2 linked regions of the Homo sapiens genome follow. The protein of the gene in region 1 interacts with the protein of each later gene in a pairwise test. Each region holds a gene or a part of one and is shown on either strand. Other genes may lie near its edges.

What was found. The genes of interacting proteins can lie anywhere in the genome.
Region 2: the proteins of LRCH4 (region 1) and RBBP6 interact in a two-hybrid assay, tested with the Homo sapiens proteins (one study listed by BioGRID).

What each region holds. Positions count from the first base shown.
Region 1 is NC_000007.14:100,573,493-100,576,163, forward strand, and holds the end of LRCH4 (leucine-rich repeat and calponin homology domain-containing protein 4), read right to left. Parts: intron 2,517-2,671; coding exon 2,379-2,516; intron 2,291-2,378; coding exon 2,213-2,290; coding exon of another isoform or gene 1,895-2,212; exon of another isoform or gene 1,813-1,894; coding exon 1,615-1,812; 3' UTR 865-1,614; coding exon of another isoform or gene 760-864; 3' UTR 519-759; downstream 1-518. Other genes in the region: histone deacetylase complex subunit SAP25, read right to left, coding at 105-250. UniProt on the Homo sapiens protein: Accessory protein that regulates signaling by multiple TLRs, acting as a broad-spanning regulator of the innate immune response. In macrophages, binds LPS and promotes proper docking of LPS in lipid raft membrane. May be required for lipid raft maintenance.
Region 2 is NC_000016.10:24,570,553-24,573,402, forward strand, and holds the end of RBBP6 (E3 ubiquitin-protein ligase RBBP6), read left to right. Parts: intron 1-323; coding exon 324-1,893; 3' UTR 1,894-2,311; downstream 2,312-2,850. UniProt on the Homo sapiens protein: E3 ubiquitin-protein ligase which promotes ubiquitination of YBX1, leading to its degradation by the proteasome.

The sequences.
Region 1 (2,671 bases):
CCCAATCTCCAGCAGGGACAATGGAGAAGCCTCCGTAGAGCGCGTGGTGAAGGCATGGAGGCCCCCAGTCGCTGTCCCCCCACGGCTCCGTCCGAGCCCCTCACCTGTCCCATGGGGGTGTCCCCAGCTCCCTGGGGGCGTCCGCTCCGGCGCTCCAGGGCTCGCCCTGGTCCTTGCCCGCCGGAAGGCCTGGTCCCTCGGGCGCCTCCTCCGGGCCCGCGCCCCACCGCGGCGGCGACCAGGGCAACATTCCGCGTTCCCGAGCGCAGGACGGTACCGCCGTGTCCCCGCCGCCCGGCCCGGCCCTCTCAGCCTCCCTCCGCGGCGCGGCGCGAACGTGCCCTCCTGGCGAACCCACCCCAGAGGCCTCGCGGCGACGCTGGCGCCCTGTGCGTCTCCCGGCCACGTGGCGCGTGCCCCCGCCGGGCTCCCGCGGGCGCCCCCTGGCGACTGGGCGGTGAATTCCGGAAACAGAGGCCCCCCCAACAACCCCGCGACGCACGTGCTCTCAGACACAGTTACACCTGAGGGCCACCCAGAGGGCTTCTGGCTTCTGTTTATTGCGGCTGACACGACACCTGCGACACCCGCGGTCCTTCCACCCAGACCCTCGACCCCAGAGGCAGCCAGGCCGGCAGGCCAAGGGTGCCCAGGCCCAGGCCACCCTCACCACGTGCTTCTCTGAGAGCGCGGAGCCCAGGCGCGTCTTCTGCTCCCGGGGTCCCGGGCGGGGTGGGCCCTGTGCCCCCACCTTCACCCCTAAGGCCGGTCCAGCAGGGCGTGGACGACAGCAGCGATGTAGGGGAGGCCCCTTCCCGGGGCCCCCTCCTCTTCCAGGATGTGGTGGGGCTGGCACAGTGACTCCTGGGGGAAGGGGCCGGGTTAGCTTCCCCACGGTGCCCCCTGCGGCTTCCGGCCTGTGGCAGGGGGTCGGGGGCAGACCCGAGCATCACCGTGCGCTCGGGGCTCGGCGACAAATGAGACGCAAGAAAGCTGTCAGCGATAACAGAAGGGAGGTGACACGGGGGGTTGGCGGACGCTCCGGGAGCATGAGAGGCCGGCATCTCAGGAGGGAGATGCTGGTGGGCACAGAGCCATGGCCACAGCCACCAACACGCGGAGCAGACGCGCGCGCGCGCGCACACACACACACACAGGCAGGGCGGCCACGGTCTGTACAGTTTATACACAGAGATAGGGACCCGGCCTGGGCCCCGAACCCCTACAAATATAGATCCTCTCTACAAAATAGAGATAATTTAGCCCCCCCATAGCAGCTGTTGGGGGGGGAAGGGGAGGGCACAGGAGGAAGGGGGAGACTCCAGCTCCTGCCACCCCTCACGGGGTACAGAGGGCAGGGGCAGGGCCGGCGGGGACATGAAGGCACCGTCAGCACTGAGAGGTGGGGACTCGTGGGGCTACTGGAGGGAGGCCAGAGGCTGGGGGCCCAGGGTCTGGGGGCACCAGAGTGGGGCCTCTGAGGTCAGTGTCTGTGAAGGGGGTGCACTAGTGTCTTTGGTTGGGGCTGAAGGCACCGCAGGTGGGGTCGGGTGGAGCAGGGACCTTATAAATAGAGAGGAAGGGAAAGGGGTGAGGGAGGGCCGATTTTGGGGCCTAGGAACCCAGGAGCCGAGTGTAGGTGACATAGAGCAGCAGCATGAGGACCACGTAGAAGACGACGAAGCCGCCCAGACCAGAGGGGGGCCAGAGGGGCGGTAGGGCCTTGCCCCCCACCCGCTTCACGGCCTCCAGCGCGGTCCGCAGCCCCCGGGCAGTGCCCTGGAGGAGATCCGAGGGCGAGCACAGGTCAGCCTGGGGGAGAGGAGAGCAGGTGGACAAGGACAAGGGACAGACGTCAGCAGCAGCAGCAGGACAGTCCCTCCCACCCCTGCCCTCACGTGCTGGGGCCAGAACCACGCCCACATGCTGACGTGCTGGGCAGGGGGAGTGCAGTGCAGGAGGAGTGCAGGGCAGGGCATGTGCAGGACAGGTGACATGCAGGACAAGATGGGGCCTGCAGGGCAGGGGATGTGTAGGACAGGTGACATGCAGGGCAGGGGGCATGCAGGGCAGGGGGCATGCTGGGCAGGGCAGGGGCAGCCTGTGCCTTCATCTGAGAGCAGACATCCGCTGCAAATGGAAGCCCACCATCCATGCCACATGCTCGGCTGAGTCCGGCATGCCACCACTCTTTAGAAAGCAGCCCCCATACCTCAGGCACCCCCATTTTTCGACAGGCTTCTAGAAAACTCTCCACATTCTTCCGAGCCTTGAGGGCACTGAGTTTTGGCTGGGGTGGGTGAAAGAAGAAAATGTGGTAAGGGAGAGGCCACAGGCGCCCCGGCCCATCCCCCACCTCTTCCCCAGCCCCAACTGACCACAGCAGGGGAGGGCACATGGATGAAGGGCACGGAGCGCGGCCGTAGCTGGTTGGCCAGCTGGCACAGGATGACCCCACTGGCCAGAGCCTCGGCCAGGTCCTCAGGCAGGGGCCGCTGCAGCCGGGACTCAAGGACCTGGCAGTGTAGACCACATAGAGCAGGGGTCAGGGAAGGAGAGGCGTCTGGGAGGCAGGGAGAGTGGGGGGCTCAGGGCTAGCAGGGAACTTGTGCCTGTCCCTTCCTGTCCTCAGGGGAGGTGCCAGAGTGGGCACAGAGGATGTGGAGGGAGG
Region 2 (2,850 bases), on another chromosome or scaffold:
CAGTTTTATCCATGCTTGTGCTTTTTATATTAATTATGAATGCTGATCTAGGGAAGTAGGCTGGTTTTATGTAGTCTTTTGTTGTCTTTGAAGAAGGGAATTGCCAAAGACAAGGTTGTAAATAGATTTTGGGGGTGAGCCACATTTGTGTTGATACAATCATAATCTTAAATTGTGTGTCTTCCTTAGGGCAGAATAAGTTTTTTGTTTTTTTTAATGTTAAAAGGACATTTGTGTTTAAGTTAGCATTTTTATATTTATCAGTGTTTTATAATTAATAGTAAATTCTTCATTAATTAAAAATATTTTGTTATTCTTTTTAGTACGAGCTCAACTGGAGGCAGTCCTGTGCGGAAATCTGAAGAAAAAACAGATACAAAGCGAACTGTGATTAAAACGATGGAAGAATATAATAATGACAATACCGCGCCAGCTGAAGATGTTATCATTATGATTCAGGTTCCTCAATCCAAATGGGATAAAGATGACTTTGAATCTGAAGAAGAAGATGTTAAATCCACACAGCCTATATCAAGTGTAGGAAAACCTGCTAGTGTTATAAAAAATGTTAGTACAAAGCCATCAAATATAGTCAAGTATCCTGAGAAAGAAAGTGAGCCATCCGAGAAAATTCAGAAATTCACCAAGGACGTGAGCCATGAAATCATACAACATGAGGTTAAAAGTTCAAAAAACTCTGCATCTAGTGAAAAAGGGAAAACCAAAGATCGAGATTATTCAGTGTTGGAAAAGGAGAACCCTGAAAAGAGGAAGAACAGCACTCAGCCAGAGAAAGAGAGTAATTTGGACCGTCTGAATGAACAAGGAAATTTTAAAAGTCTGTCTCAATCTTCCAAAGAGGCTAGAACGTCAGATAAACATGATTCCACTCGTGCTTCCTCAAATAAAGACTTCACTCCCAATAGAGACAAAAAAACTGACTATGACACCAGAGAGTATTCAAGTTCCAAACGTAGAGATGAAAAGAATGAATTAACAAGACGAAAAGACTCTCCTTCTCGGAATAAAGATTCTGCATCTGGACAGAAAAATAAACCAAGGGAAGAGAGAGATTTGCCTAAAAAAGGAACAGGAGATTCCAAAAAAAGTAATTCTAGTCCCTCAAGAGACAGAAAACCTCATGATCACAAAGCCACTTATGATACTAAACGGCCAAATGAAGAGACAAAATCTGTAGATAAAAATCCTTGTAAGGATCGTGAGAAGCATGTATTAGAAGCAAGGAACAATAAAGAGTCAAGTGGCAATAAACTACTTTATATACTTAACCCACCAGAGACACAGGTTGAAAAAGAGCAAATTACTGGGCAAATTGACAAGAGTACTGTCAAGCCTAAACCCCAGTTAAGTCATTCCTCTAGACTTTCCTCTGACTTAACTAGAGAAACTGATGAAGCTGCTTTTGAACCAGACTATAATGAAAGTGACAGTGAAAGTAATGTTTCTGTAAAAGAAGAGGAATCTTCAGGAAACATTTCTAAGGACCTGAAAGATAAAATAGTGGAGAAAGCAAAAGAGAGCCTGGACACAGCAGCAGTTGTCCAGGTGGGCATAAGCAGGAATCAGAGCCACAGCAGCCCCAGCGTCAGCCCCAGCAGAAGCCACAGTCCTTCTGGAAGCCAGACCCGAAGCCACAGTAGCAGTGCCAGCTCAGCAGAAAGTCAGGACAGCAAGAAGAAGAAGAAAAAGAAGGAAAAGAAAAAACACAAGAAACATAAAAAGCATAAGAAGCATAAGAAACATGCAGGCACTGAAGTGGAATTGGAAAAAAGCCAAAAACACAAACACAAGAAAAAGAAGTCAAAGAAGAACAAAGATAAAGAGAAGGAGAAGGAGAAAGATGACCAAAAAGTGAAATCTGTCACTGTGTAAAAAGACAGATTTTTTAAATTGACTTAATTACTAAGTCATCTGTATTAAATTTTGTTATAATGTAAAGAGATTCAAGCCTTGTAAATAATGACATGGAAGACCCTGTGCTGCACTTAAAATATTGCTGCTTGATTATTTGATTTTTACATCAGAGCTTTATAACACGAACTTTTGTACAGAATTGTGAGTTGTGACCATGTAACATGAGAGGTTTTGCTAGGGCCTATTATTTTTAACCACCATTAATTAGTTGGGGTGGAGTTTACTGTAATGTGAAATTTTCACATTTGAATTTTTTAATTGCCTGGCAAAAGCTGATATAAGTTCTAAAATATCAGCAGAATGATTTGCTGAATTCATTACAACCCTGTTATGTCACTTTTTGATTACAATAAAAGTTTTCAGTAAACTTTTCAAATGTTGAGTATTTGCATTATTTACAGAAAGTAGTGCCATATCTGTATACTTAACCCACCAGATGCAGGTTGTATGTGTGTCTCCATTTTCCTATTTTAAAATTCTTAGTTTTTAATACAAGCTGAACTGAATATACAGAATTCTAAATTAAACATGGAAGATACATTTCATAGGTGGGCAGGTGGTAGAGGCCAGAAATGAATCAGGATTAATTGGAGATGTGGTTAAATAAATCTAGGAGAGTCTTGAATTACATAGAAATTCGAAGTTTGAACTTTCAAAATGGTTTGGATTTGAATATTAGAGATGCAGAATTGTGACTCGTTTATGGCCACGTATTTTTCTGGAAACCCTGATAAATAAGTATTAAATTCCTTGATAAAGGAGAATGCAGCTAAACCAGTGAGTGCTTGTGGCCTACCCAATCTGCCCAGTTGACAAGCAAGCGGTCATTACTTACGATGAGTTTCCTTTATTGCTGTGGTTCGGGAAGTGTACCTGGGGACAGTGAAAAGGTACTGAAAGGATGTGGGGAATGAG